4 linked regions of the Homo sapiens genome follow. The protein of the gene in region 4 purifies or fractionates together with the protein of the main gene of each other region. This does not show direct contact. Each region holds a gene or a part of one and is shown on either strand. Other genes may lie near its edges.

What was found. Proteins that work in one complex are often made in the same cells at the same time.
Region 1: the proteins of POLA1 (region 4) and CHM purify together in Homo sapiens (co-immunoprecipitation; one large-scale study listed by IntAct). This does not show direct contact.
Region 2: the proteins of POLA1 (region 4) and PPP2R1B purify together in Homo sapiens (affinity purification with western blotting, with the first as the bait; one study listed by BioGRID). This does not show direct contact.
Region 3: the proteins of POLA1 (region 4) and POLE4 fractionate together in Homo sapiens (co-fractionation; one large-scale study listed by BioGRID). This does not show direct contact.

What each region holds. Positions count from the first base shown.
Region 1 is NC_000023.11:86,040,960-86,044,690, forward strand, and holds part of CHM (rab proteins geranylgeranyltransferase component A 1), read right to left. Parts: intron 1-3,731. UniProt on the Homo sapiens protein: Substrate-binding subunit of the Rab geranylgeranyltransferase (GGTase) complex.
Region 2 is NC_000011.10:111,752,791-111,756,521, forward strand, and holds part of PPP2R1B (serine/threonine-protein phosphatase 2A 65 kDa regulatory subunit A beta isoform), read right to left. Parts: intron 2,661-3,731; coding exon 2,505-2,660; intron 2,305-2,504; coding exon 2,190-2,304; intron 1,780-2,189; coding exon 1,709-1,779; intron 788-1,708; coding exon 653-787; intron 1-652. UniProt on the Homo sapiens protein: The PR65 subunit of protein phosphatase 2A serves as a scaffolding molecule to coordinate the assembly of the catalytic subunit and a variable regulatory B subunit.
Region 3 is NC_000002.12:74,965,011-74,968,741, reverse strand, and holds part of POLE4 (DNA polymerase epsilon subunit 4), read right to left. Parts: intron 1-3,731. UniProt on the Homo sapiens protein: Accessory component of the DNA polymerase epsilon complex. Participates in DNA repair and in chromosomal DNA replication.
Region 4 is NC_000023.11:24,714,373-24,718,103, reverse strand, and holds part of POLA1 (DNA polymerase alpha catalytic subunit), read right to left. Parts: intron 3,551-3,731; coding exon 3,435-3,550; intron 2,964-3,434; coding exon 2,901-2,963; intron 1,743-2,900; coding exon 1,650-1,742; intron 1,221-1,649; coding exon 1,133-1,220; intron 815-1,132; coding exon 613-814; intron 525-612; coding exon 346-524; intron 1-345. UniProt on the Homo sapiens protein: Catalytic subunit of the DNA polymerase alpha complex (also known as the alpha DNA polymerase-primase complex) which plays an essential role in the initiation of DNA synthesis.

The DNA of each region.
Region 1 (3,731 bases), about 61 Mb from region 4:
CTAACTTTTTAGTTAAAGAATGCACTGAGACTGAATAGCAGATGATTTAGCATGAGTTAACAGGTCAATTATATGGAATTATAATTGTTTCTGTGCATTGGGATTTTATGTTAAACATGAGAATGTAATGGTGGGCTGCCATATTTGAATTTAATTACTGTAGCCTGTTATCCAAAACATCATGAAAACACTGGAGAAAATGAGAAAAATGACATGAGGCATGGGAGATGAAAATGATGCTGCAGAGGAAATTATGGCAACAGATGTGGCTCTCTCTGAGGTATTGGCTCAAATTCATGATTTACAGAGAAGGGTAAGCATCTCCCAGAGAGTCTTCTCCAGAGTTAGATAACTCTTTACTTTTCTAGGTATTGGAAGCAAACAAAAACATACTTTTCCATCAATAAATGCCTGAAGAAGTGCAAAGCATTTTTCAGAACAGCAAAATCTGCAGGCTATCTTTCACTCCTATAGCATCTCTTACGCTGACAACGGAGTGTTTCATACTATACCTCAAATAAGACCGATACTAAATCTGTTCCAAAAACTATGAGGAAAACAAATGATAAATAATGCAAGCTGGTGAACAAAAGAGAAGACAACAAAGAAAGGACTTTTGAAATACCATTTCACTCCTACTCACTATGTCATTCAGCTGATCAATATACTCTATGCTTTAAATTTTTTGAACCTGCCCTCCCCAAAAACATATGTGTGTATGTGTGTTTATGTATATATATATATATGTTATATATATGGTGTGTGTGTATATATATATATATATATATATATATATATACATATATATATAAAAAACAACATTCATCCTTACTACATGCATTCTGATATATTCTACCTCATTTTTATAATGCTGGAATTCACTCCATGATCCACTAATAGGTGGCATCTTACAATTTTTAAAAATCCACTGTAGACAATAGATGTGAAGATTTTGGAAGTACACAGGGAGGACTATGGACATCCTGTGATGTGAGAACCACATTCAGGCATCCTGGGAGAAGATTAAGTTAGAAATATAGGAAATCACTTGTGTTAAGGCTGGCACAAACAGATATTTGGTAAATATCAGTTTTCACAACTCCTCCTGCAATATTACTATCCCCCAAGGCTTACAGAAGTGATGCTATTCCAACATCATCATAAGTCAATGAGCTGCCAGTCAAGGTTAACTACCTTAATGTTTAAATTCACCAACATCAAGGAATGGGACTGGAACATCCCAACATCAAGGAAAGGCTACTTAAGTGACCTTTTCTGAAAAAAGCAGCCTATCATTTTTAAGAAAATGCCTTTTCTAATCAGTCACTGTATTAGGCTGTTCCTGTGTTGCCATAAAGGAATGCCTGAAACTGGGTAATTTATAAAGAAAAGAGGTTTAATTGGCTCAGGGTTCTGCAGGCTGTACAAGCATGGTACAGGCATCTGCTCGGCTTCTAGGGAGGCCTGAGGGAGCTTTTAGTCATAGCAGAAGGCAAAGGGGAAGCAGGCATCTCCCTTGGTGAGAGGCAAGGCAAGCAAGTGTGGGGAGATGCCACACACTTTTAAACAACCAGTCGACCAGGCACAGTGGCTCCCATCTGTAATCCCAGCAATTTGGGCCACCAAGGCAGGTAGATTGCTTGAGTTCAGAAGTGCAAAACCAGCCTGGGCAACATAGGCAGACCCCATCTCTACAAAAATAAAAAAAAAAAAATTAGCCAGGCATGGTGATGCATGTCTGTAATCTCAGCTACTCAGGAGTCTGAGGTGGGAGGATTGCTTGGGCCCAGGAGGTTAAGGCTGCAGTGGGCCATGATTGTGCCACTGCACTCCAACTAGGGTGACAGAGCAAGACCCTGTCTCAAAAAAAAAATTAAAAAATAAACCACCAGATCCTGCAAGAACGAATTCACTATTACAAGAAGAGTACCAAGCCATGAGGGATCCACTCCCATGACCCAAACACATCCCATCAGGCCCCACCTCCGACAACGAGGATAACATTTCAACATGAGATTTGGGCAGGACAAATATCTAAACCCTATCAGCCATTTTTATAGGAAAATTTCTGAAGTATATGAAACACTGACTTTCCTTCTTAAAAAGACTACACAGAACAGAATTTAGCCTTTTCTCAAGGACATGGTGTCATAAATAGATATATACAATGGTAATTTTAGGGCTGGTAGATCCCTACCTTGGAGATCATCTATTGAAATTTCTCACTTTACAGATGAACTAAATGATGTCACAAGAAATTCTGTAATTTTCCCAAAATCACACAATAGGATGGTCATGTGATTATCATACACCATGCTGCCACATCTACTACTGTATGGTGCTAAACACTATCTAGCAAGATAATCAGGATTTAGGGGCAGTACTCCTTATAATTTCCATGTTTATCTTTGCTATCCCTTCTCTTTCCCCATAATCTTTAGCAATAAAACTTTTTTTTTTTTTTGAGATAGGGTCTTGCTCTGTTGCCCAGGCTGAAGTGCAGTGACACAACTATAGCTCACTGCAGCCTCAAACTCCCAGTTTCAGGCAATCCTCCCACCTCAGCCTTCCAAGTAGCTGGGACTACAGGCACGTGTCACCATACCCAATTAATTTTTGTATTTTTTTTGTAGAAATACAGTTTTGCTGTGTCACCCATTTCAGCTACTTGGGAGGCTGAGGTTTCAAACTCCTGAGCTCAAGCAATCCACCTGCCTCGGCTTCCCCAAGTGCTGGGATTACAGGCCTGAGCCACTGCACCTGGCCAATGAAACTTTTTTTTTTTTTTGAGACAGTCTCACTCTGTTTCTCTGACTAGAGTGCAGTGGTGCCATCTAAGCTCACTGCAACCTCCGCCTTCCAGGATCAAGGGATGCCTGTGCCTTAGCCTATAGAGTAATGGGGATTACAGGCCCGTGCCACCATGCTTGGCTAACAATAAAACTCTTAAATCAAAAGAATATATGTGTTTATCCTATGCAGTAGAAAAATTAAGCTAACCTACTCTGCAGCCCATCTTAGGGGAAGAACTCCAAAAGATGTGAGCAGTGTGCTTTTAAAAAGAAAAAATGCAGGCTGAATGTCTACATGGTCTTCAAAAAGAAAGAAGGATGCAATGAAAAGCCTACATTGTCTTAAGAACAGCTTTGGGGATATGACTGTTAGGAAGGCCAGAACGTTCCTGAGAATAGGCAATACAGTAAACTTCACAAGGGAAGGGACTAGGTTCTCAGTAAATGTGGGTTGAATGACCTGAAAAATGAGTATTTGTCACTACACTAAATGTTATCAGGCCTTTGTGATGTTTGATGTAAGTTTGCATTTTAGGTGTTTTTCTCTTCCCTTTCCTATACAAACTGTCATTTGTATGTCTAATAGCAACCCCACCAAACATAGTCTTTGCAGAAGTTGATAACATTCCTTGTATCTTCTAAGGGGGTGGTTCTAATATGCTGAGCTTGCTAGAATTATTTTTAAAATGAGGATGAATATGTTCTAAGTGATGATCTCAGGGATTCCCCTATGTATGAAGCATGTCAATATTATCATATAGATCTTATAACTTCCATCTTGACTGCTCTTCTGTTGAGTTCTTGGCTCTGCTGTGCTGCAGATTACACAGGCTTCCAGATAAGTCACCTCCAGTGAGATGTAATGTTACTGGGACGACTTTTAACGTTCAACCAATGGTACTTGTCTATAATCCACAAAACTGTCATTTAAATGACTTT
Region 2 (3,731 bases), on a different chromosome or scaffold from region 4:
GTCTCTACTAAAAATACAAAAAATTAGCTGGGTGCTGTGGCAGGCGCCTGTAGTCCCAGCTACTCAGGAGGCTGAGGCAAGAGAATGGCATCAACTCAGGAGGCGGAGCTTGCAGTGAGCAGAGATTGCGCCACTGCACTCCAGCCTGGGCGACAGAGCAAGACTCCGTCTCAAAAAACAAAACAAACAAACAAACAAACAAAAAGGGATAATAATAAGACCTACCTCACAGGATTGTTGTGAGAATTGCATGTAAAAATACATGCAAAGCACTAAGGCTCATGCTTGCCATGTAGTAATTACTCAGTAAATATTAGGTATCATTATAATTTTTGATACTATATTTAAACTTAAATAAATGAAACTTTTTAAACAAAGACACATTAGCTTTAAAGAAACCAGGGAGTATAAAGCAAAAATCAGGTAAAGATGATAAACAGATATTTCTAGGTTTACTCTAATGGGTACTTTTGCCCACTTTCTGAGGAACCTATAACCCCATACCCAAAATCACAGGTGTCATTGGTTTAAAATAAGTTATGATTTTTTTATCCATTTTCTTTTTGGGGGTTCTATTTTAATGAAACCCTAAACCAAAATCAAATAAAATCAAATTACTATCAAAGGCAACAGAACATAAAGCAAGACCCACCTCATCCTTTAACTGAGCTAAGAAAAGAGGTAGAAGATGTTCAATGGTATTTTCTTTGCCCAAAATAGTAGACAATCCCATAATTACAGAAGCTAGAGCCGATTTGACATGTTGATTGGTATCGGATACTAATTCCTAAAATAAAATCGAAATTAAAAGCCTTTATTACAAGACAACAGAAACTTCCATACCATTATTCTGGGAAACAGAGTCTTGCTCTGTTGCCCAGGCTGGAGTGCAGTGGCATGACCTTGGCTCACTGCAGCCTCACCCTCCCAGGCTCAAGCACTTCAGCCTCCAGAGTAGCTGGGTCTACAGACATGCACCACCAGGCCTGGCTAATTTTTTTCATTTTTTGCAGAGACAGGTTCTTACTACATTGCCAGGGCTGGTCTTGAACTCCTGGGTTCATGCAATCCTCTTACCTTGGCCTCTCAAAGCGCTGGGATTACAGGTGTGAGCCACCACGCCTGGCCTAATTTTTTTTTTTTTGAGACAGTGTCTCACCCTGTCACCTAGGCTGGAGTACAGTGGCATGATCATAGCTCACTGCCATCTCAACCTCCTGGGCTCAAGCAATCCTCCCACCTCAGACTCCCAAGTAGCTGGTACTACAGGTGCATGCCACCAGGCTCAACTAATTTTTGTATTTTTTGTAGCAATGGGGTCTCACTATGTTGCCCAGGCTGGTCTCAAACTCCTGGGCTCAAGAAATCCTCCCACCTCAGCGTCCCAAAGTGCTTGGATTACAGGCATGTACCACCATGCCTGACCCCAAGGAATTTAAAGACAGCACTATTTCAATACTGATTAGTTGATAATGTTTCCTCAGACTACTTGTTAGGTAACATAAACCTATGCACCAAAGAGCAGTTTACAATTACAATGGGCTAATAAGTGATGAATAACAATGTTGCACATTAACACATCTTCCCCATTCATTCCCTGTCAACCTTTAAACTCAAAGAGCTTTAAGGTAAACAAACAAACAAAAATAATGAGATTAAGGTTTACCTTCATATAAAAGAGAGTGAAACAAAATAAAGTCAGGTTTACCTTTATATAAGGCAGAATTTGATTCATAATTATGGTCTCTCTATCTTCAATGGGCAAGTTCTCACCAAGTTCTAAAAGATAAATAGAAAAAAAGAATGCTTTCACAGGGCCATTTACAAAGAGCCAAATGAGGACATTTAACCAGGTTTATCAATAATTTCAATTAAATTATATGTTTAAGCAAATAAGGAAAACAGCTCTTGTTCTAAATAAACTTTTTCGTGAACTCTCTATGCCATTGCATATCACACCAATCCAACCTGAAAGGCATTTTTTTTTTTACAAAAACAAGACAAAATGATTTCTTGGTTTTAAATATAAAGAGACTATCTTTAAGTGACAATGTAACATTTCCACACACTAAAAACATCCCTATGTATTTTAAAAACATATTCTAGAACAAAAAACATGCAAAATTGACTAACAAAAAAATGCACCAAAATGAATGACACATGTTCCAACATAAATTGAACTCCTTAACCTTTTACTTTGTGGGCAGCAGCTGCCCGGACTTCAGCTTCACAGTCTTTAAGTAGGTTCTGAAAGGCGGGGATGAGGTCATTTAGGGTGATTTTAGGACCCATGGCTTTCTGGAGCTATAAAAGAATTTGAACGGGTTTTAATGTATACTAACAAAAGAATTAACAAGAACAAAACAAAATTGTGCAATCTGTAAATACATATTTTTGCCACAGCACTTCCCATTGAAAAGAATTAATTCAGAAACTTTGGGTACAACAGCAAATCTATGTGTTTTCAGGTTTATTTCCTTAGTACTTAAAAATGATCACTTTACCTCTGAAAATCTGTCAGCCACCATATAGCGAACGCGCCAAGATTTATCTTCTGCTGCTTGTCGAAGTGTAGGCATCACCAAAGTCTCAAGGTCATCCTGAGACAATAACTGGGCAATACTGACACAAGCTTCCACAGCAAGGAGGCGCACTGAATCCTAAAGGAACAAAATTTCTGTAATTCAGACATTTACTGAGACCCATGGGGAACTGCTGTGGGGTGGTGCAGGTGTTTAAAAAAATTAACACCACCAAGACTGCCACACCTTATATAGTTTCACGTCTTGACATCTTTTTCTTTTTTTTTTTTTTTTTGAGGCAGGGTCTCACTCTGTCACCCAGATTGGAGTGCAGTGGCACAATCTCCGCTCATTCCAACATCCGCCTCCCAGGCTCAAGTGATTCTCCTGCCTCAGCCTCCCGAGTAGCTGGGATTACAGGCAGGAGCCACCACGCCCAGCTAATTTTTGTATTTTTAGTAGAGACAGAGTTTCACCACGTTGGCCAGCCTGGTTTCAAACTCCTGACCTCAAATGATCCACCTGCCTCGGCCTCCCAAAGTGCTGGGTGCTGGGATTACAAGCGCGAGCCACTGCGCCTGGCCGTGTATTTATATCTTGAAAGAGCTGCTCCCGGCCGGGCCCAGTGGCTCACGTCTGTAATACCAGCACTCTGGGAGGCTGAGGCAGGCGGATCACGAGGTCAGGAGAGGGAAACCATCCTAGCTAACACGGTGAAACCCCATCTCTACTAAAAATACAAAAAAAATTAGCCAGGCGTGGTGGCGGGTGCCTGTAGTCCCAGCTACTCGGGAGGCTGAGGCAGGCGAATGGCGTGAACCCAGCAGGCGGAGCTTGCAGTGAGCCGAGACTGCACCACTGCACTCCAGTCTGGGCGACAGAGTGACACTCTGTCTCAAAAAACAAAAAGGAAAAAAAAAAAAAGAAAGAGCTGCTCCCTTTGCCTGGAATGGCATGTCAAAGTCATAAAGATAGAAATGACTTTGTACTATGAGTAAACAGCAAAGTAATTACCTTGGCTAGAATGCAGAGTTTCTATAAAGGAAATGAAAATTTTAAAATTAAGTAAAAAAGAAAAAAAAAACATTTTAATGATGCCTTCAAAGCCTTACTATAACAGAAAGTTGAGGGATAAAAATGAAAACAATATTTGTACAAGTTATTTATAACAGATTAGGACAAAGGTAAGAGTAAGAGTAAAGGAAATCA
Region 3 (3,731 bases), on a different chromosome or scaffold from region 4:
TAATGACCAGAGGGTCTGTATGACAAACAGTTGCCCCTATCTCCCCACAACCCTCCCCACAGGCAGGACAACCAGAAGACAGGCATTTAAACCTAACTTGGAAAAAAAAAAAAAACAAAGATCACAGGGCTCTCTTCTAAAGAACCAAATGAACTATATGGAGAAAACTAGAACAGCCTCTAAAACTGCCAGCTTCCCACAGCAAAGCATTCTGCATTCATACCCTCGGGGTCACCCAGGACAACATCTGGTCCCACCCCTGTTCACCCTAAAGCAAAGCTGCCAGGCAACAACCACCCCCTCATCCCATACACACACACACAGTTACCAAACAGCCTTATTCCCTTATTCTTAAATAGAATGAAAATCACCAGGTATCTGAAGAAAGCTACACAGTTGAAAGGATACCAAAACTTTTTTTAATGACCTAGATAATATAGGGAAAATAAAAACATAAGAAAAATAAAGCAAAAACACTTCTAATTTAAAAAAAAATAGAGGTGCTTTTCATAATGGCAAGTTCCTGTTGAGATCAACTGAGAAAGCTAAATAAAATATATAAGAAAAGGAAATCTTCAGGAATTGAAGAGACATCAAGAAAAAGCAAATGTGAAATCTAGAGACAGTAAGAACACAAAACAAACCCAGCCTCTAATGTTACTTCTGCTCTCATGACATCTGCCAATCTGAAAAAGCTGAGAAACTGGGCGGTTATTTGTGTAGGCTGAAGGAACCAAGAGTCAAATCCCTGAGTCTACCCAAGTAAGGAAGTCTGACACCCATCTTTCTTAAGCTAGAGCCCAAAAGGCTGCCCCCTCAGAGTAAGGACGAACTGGAATTTAATCAGTGCCCCTTCACAGGCCTGCAGCCTGAGTTCATATCAGTATGATAGTCCAGAAACCTTCAAGTCTTAGATCTGGATTCAGAAGTCCTGCACTGATAATGGCTGTAGGTGGCTTCAGGAGCAAATGGAAATTTTCTTTGGAGAAAGTATCACCATATGGCCTCAACTTATCTAACAAATACTTTTTAAAGAAAATAACCATTATCCAAAGATAGGCATATAGGGGGATAAAAGGCCATGTGACAGTACCAAAAGAAACAACAGACAAAAAGACAGTCTCAAGAGACTATGGATGTTAGATTCGGCACAGACTAGCAAACAAAAAACTCAAAAGGCTTTGAATATTAGGTCATATATTGGATGGAACATTCACTATAAAACAACTGTGTTTACTATGTTTACAGAACTAAAAGACAAACTTCAAAATACCTGCAGAAAATAAGAACAACAAAAAGTACTCACAAAAATTGCTTGATACTTTATTAAGCTAAAAAAAAAGACAACAGATTTGGAAAGGAACCAAACAGAACTCACAGTACTGAAAAATACAAAAACTGAAACTAAAAAAAAAAAACAAAAAAAATAGTTTAAAGGAAATGAGACAAATGGAGAGAATAAACTGGAAGATCAGAAAAAATTACACAGAATGCATACTAGAGAGGCAAAATTATGATTGAGTTTTTACATATATTTAATGGGAATCCCAGAGAGAGACACAGGAAAGAACAAGGCAGAGCCAATAGCTGAAGAGACACTCGCTGAGAATTTTCCAGGACAGATGAAAGACATTAATCTATAGATTCAAGAAGCTCAAACAAACTACATAAAAAGAAATCCACACCTCTGTACATCAGAGTGAAACCACAGAAAATCAAAGTGAAAATCTTAAAAGCAGACAAAAAACAAAAAGGATAAACTAGCTTCAAAAGAATTACAAACAGGTAATTTCTCTATAGAAAACATAGAAGCCAAAAAAAAAAGCAGTAAAATGATAGCTTCAATGTGCTAAAAGAAAATAATTTTCCACCTAGAATTTATATTCAACAAATTATCCTCCAACAATGAAATTCAAGGCATTTTCATAAGAAAAAAATGAGAGAGTCAGTTACCAGACCATACTAAATGAAGTTCTAAATGATTTATTTCAGGAAGAAGAAAATGATCACAAATGGAGGATCGGAAATACAGAAAGGAGGCCAAGCACAGCAGCTCACGCCTGTAATCCCAGCACTTGGGAGGCCAAGGCAGGCAGATGACTTGAGGTCAGGAGTTTGAGACTAGCCTGGTCAACATGGTGAAACCCCATCTCTACTAAAAATACAAAAAAAACTAGCCAGGCTTGGTGGTGCATGCCTGTAATTCCAGCTACTTGGGAGGCTGAGACATGAGAATCACTTGAACCCAGGAGGCAGAGGTTGCAGTGAGCTGAGATCGCACCACTGCACTCCAGCCTGGGTGACGAAATGAAACTGTCTCAAAAATAATAATAATCCAGAAAGGAAAGAAAAGCAAAGGTAGTATGTGACTAAATCCATATATCATTGACTGCATAATTCAGGAATAAAAATGCCTTATGTAGATTGACAAAGACAAAACAAAAATACATGACAATAACAGCACATAAATTAGGAGACGAGGAATTTGAAAATTGAGTTAATGGATCCTGAGATCTCAATTTGTTGAGAATGAGGGGAAAGGTACTAAATAGGCTTTGATAAATTAAGGACTTACATAGTAACTGATAATCACTAAAAGAATAGAAATAGAGCATATAACTTCCAAGCTGATAGAGGGAAAAAAATCAAATAATAATCCAAAAGAAGGCCAAAAATTGAGAGAAAAAAAAAACAAAACATAAAACAAGCAAATAAAAAGCAGGACAAAATAAGACAATAGAATTCAAACTCATAGATATGACCAATTACATTAAACATAAATAAATGACGTGCTCCAGTTATAGACACAGACTGTCTGAATTTAGGAAAATAATCCAGTTAAATTCTGTTCACAAATATATGGAAAGATAAAAATTAAAAGATTTACAAAAATCCGTACCGTGCAAATAAATACTAACTAAAGAAAGCTGATAAGCTTTAATAATATTAAACAAAATAGACTTTAGGGCTCAAAGCAGTTAGAAATAACAATAGCCAATTTACAAATATAAAAGGCTCAATCACCAACAATATATAACAACATTAAATTTGTATATATCTAATCACATGGTTTCATAATATATAATGAAAGAATAGACCCAGAAATATAAGTAGAAATAGTCCATAATCATAGCAGTAGAGTTTTAACACATAACTCTTTGAAACAGGTAAAATAAGCAGACAGAAGAAATTCAGTAAGAACACAGAAAATCTAAATTATACAATAACCAAATTTGGCATTGCAACCCCTCTAACAGCATCACTGAATTCCATCAAATATTCAAAAACAAAATAATTCCAATCTTTCAATAAGTTTTCCAGAGAATAGATAAGATAAAAAGTGGGCCAGGCGCGGTGGCTCACGCCTGTAATCCCAACACTTTGGGAGGCTGAGGCGGGTGGACCTTGAACACCTGAGGTCAGGAGTTCAAGACCAGCCTGACCAACATGGCAAAACCCCATCTCTACTAAAATACAAAAATTATTGGGGTGTGGTGGTGCGAGCCTGTAATCCCAGCTACTCGAGAGGCTGAGGCAGGAGAATCACTTGAACCCAGGAGGCAGAGGTTGCAATGAGCTGAGATCGTACCACTGTACTCCACCCTGGGCAACAGAGTGAGACTCCATCCCCCACCAAAAAAAAAAAAAAAATAGATAAAAAGTGTATAATTGCCAATGAATTGTATGAAGCTCACACACAGTATGAAAAAAAAAGACTAATCTCTTTTATA
Region 4 (3,731 bases):
ACACATCAATAGTGAACTACAAACACACATTCCAAAACCATATGTAACTGATTTTTGGAATAAGCATCTTTAAGGATTATTCGCACCATAGCTCTTCTCCATCAGGGTGGCGCATTCACTTTACAATGAATGAGTGTCGCTCTCTTACAATACATGTTAAGTGAGGGCAGGGCCTGACCTGAGCTAATTACAGTGACTCAAGTATTTAAGGATAAAGAAAAAAAAAACAGAAATAAACTGATTAAATAAAAAGACAAAACACACAAAAAGAAACAAAAAATAAAATATTTAAGGGAAAAGTCCTACTCTGAGTTAAAGGCATATAGTTACCTTATATATGATTACCTGGTTGGTTGTACTGATCCTCATAAGCATCCAACCAATAAAAGTGGAATACTTGTTCCTCATCTGCCCCTTTTACCAATGGGAGGTGACTGGAATCCACTTGAACTTCTTGCACTGAGAAACTGCTATCACCTTCTTGATCAATGTCCCAACAAGAGACATCCGGGAGAAAACTTCCTCTGCAGAAATCACATTTTCAAAAACCTTTCAAAATCCAACAGAAAAATTGTGGTCCTATTTGCCAGAAAAGTCATAAAATGCTCTTACAAGTAGGACACGGTCCCTTTCCCAGAATCCGCCTCTTGTTTCACTTCCTCTGCTGGCTCACTCTCTTTGTCCCAAGCCTTGGCAGCCATAGGCTCCAGGTCCACCTCTTCAACTTCCATGGGCTCATCAAAGTCACCATCTTCAAACTCCATTGCCCCTGACTCCTGCTCTTCTTCTGTACTCTCGACCTGTACATCATCGCCTGTAGGCATCATCACACATTCTTGTCATGTGTTATTGCGATGACACAAAGGCACACAAAGGCACACAAAGGCGCACAAAGGCTTATCCAACACTAAAATAGCAGCCTGTCCCTTTTCTATACTATGTTTGCATTTCTCTTTAATCTCCAAATTGGGTGTTTTTAACTTTTACTGAAATTTTTATGAATTCAAATCTTCACATTTAAACTTGCCATCACAACACCTTCAAAATCTCCTCTACCTCCTCCATCATAGGGCCTCCATTTTTGACAGAAACCACTCAACACTCTTGCAATTCTGCCTGACATCACACTTACCAGCAAATTCAGCACGTTTAAGAGGAACAGGAGTTAATGGAGGCTCCTTTCTGGAGACAGGGGAAGCAATTTTTCCTGAAGGAACTGCCTGTAAACGTTTTTAAATATTTAGTCAGTTAGACCTACATACTAAAAATATGCAACTGTCCTACCCTGACCAAAGATAATGACAGTTCCCTTTTATAAAAAGATTTTATGTATTATTAATGTAACAGCTTCAATTATTTTACTGTTACCTAGGTTTACAAAAAAATACTTGCTTCTGGGAGGAAAATTATTGCATTTACCACAGTTGTAATACCTATAATAAACACACACTAGTTACTGCAAATTTACTATGAAAAAGGCAGGCACATGCTATTTTTGAAATACATGAAACTATAAATTGAATGGGAGTCCTAATTTAAAACAAAAATCAAAAACAAATGTAAAGGTATTTCCCTCATACAGAAAAGCAACAAAATAAGTTTAAAGCAATACTATAAATCAAGATTGAAGGTATCTCTACACACTTTACCGTGGCGGTGTGCACAGAGAAAGGATTCGGTGAAGCTCCAATGGATCTTTTCTTCTTCAGTATCATTACAGGTGGTGGAGTTATTTGAGGTGTCTAAAAGGAAAGGTAAGACATATTCACTGCCATGCTTGGTTTACCACAGACAGAAAAAGTATACTTCTTCACTCATTGAAGCCCAATAAGCAAAGCTTTCTTTTCTTTCCCTTTCCCCCTCCCCCCTCCCATCGATGTCATGTACTGTGGTTACTATAGCAACAATACTATAGAAATCACAAGAAAACTAAAATAGATATTAAATCTACCCCCTCCCAAATTTTTTCTTCTTAAAATTTAACATACTTTCACTGACCCTTTGAGAATATTACATTTAAAAATTGTCAAGATAAAACTACATGGTGTTGTTGTTAAGTCATTTTAATCAATGGTCACTTTAAAAGAAGTACACTTCTAAATGAGAGCGTAGTCTTTATGGGAAATGGCCAAATCTCAAATTCACAATGCAGCTAATCCTGTTTGAGTTCTATCAGGGATAGTTCACTCACTCTTCCTTCATTCCCACTCAGAATTCAAGACAAGGCTCTTATACCTGATTGTGCAGATTGACAGGCTTCAATCTATTTAGGGAACATACACCACAGCAACTGAACACAAGCAGTGAGCACTCACAGAACTGACTCCTGGGTATATTCTTACTACTTCAAACACACACCCACACATCCCTATCTACATAATCACACAGCTCTAACAGCTGGAAATACTCACCTAAAATGGTGGGATAAAACCAATCTGAAGGGGGTTTCTTTGTTTTTTGGTGGGGGGTTTTTTGTTGGCGTTCTTACATTTTAAAAAATTCTGTCAACAGGCCGGGCACAGTGGCTCACGCCTGTAATCCCAGCACTTTGGGAGGCCAAGACAGGCGGATCACGAGGTAAGGAGTTCGAGACCAGCCTGGCCAACATAGTGAAACCTAGTCTCTAGTAAAAATACAAAATATTAGCCGGGCGTGGTGGCAGGTGCCTGTAATCCTAGCTACTCGGGAGGCTGAGGCAGGAATCAGGGAAGAGGAACCTGGGAATCAGAGGTTGCAACGAGCCAAGATCGCACCACTGCACACCAGCCTGGGCAACAGTGCAAGCTACTGTTTCAAAAAAAAAGAAAAAATTCTGGCAATAGTCTGTTTTGTATAATTACTAGAGTGTTTCTTCAGTCTATGTCCTCTGCATATTTTACAACTCCTGGAGATTCATTTACCTCAGTGTTAAGATCCTGTAGAATGTCACCTAGCAGACCATCCTTGGACAAGTCTACAGCTTTCTGGAAATGATAAAGAAAGGTAACATGAGAAAGCCTTGCACTTAAAATGTCTCACCAAAACTACACACATGTATATGAAAGGAAGGACCTAGCCAGTTAGTCCTTGCCTCTTCATTCCTCACTCTCTGAGTGCTCATCTACATTCACAGATTTTAACAACCACCTGTGTATATAGCATTCCTACATCTATAGCTCCCATCCTCTACTTTCGCCCTTAATCCATGATCTTCCTGCTACTCACTAAAATTAAACACACTCTCAATTCAGCTTTTCTGTTCAATTCTCTTTTCCATTTCGCAAGTTCCAACCACTGAGGTGCCTTAATTCACTTAGAAATCTACATCCAACTTAGTGAGTGAAATTGGAAAAATGTTACTCAAATATATACAGAGCACCTGTTATCTGTATAATCAAATATTAAATTCACCTCACAAAGGAAAATACAAAAAATAAGGAAACCATGAAACTCACATCTGCAGTTTTCTTTCCAGCACAAGCAATGAACATTGACTTAATGTTGTTCGGTTTTGTCACTGCGAGCTTCTTTACATTCCTCTTGTCTTTATTGCGTGCTTTACCATCTTTTCCTATTGGAATATGAATTATTTAGAAACATGCATCAGCAAAAATCAAAATGGAAAACTAAAAGCCTAGTCACTTGATCTCTATTGGGAAGAAAAATGTTAAGAATTAAAAATACATCATGCCTGTATTCCCAGCACTTTGGGAGGCCAAGGCGGGAGGATCACGAGATCAGGAGATCGAGAC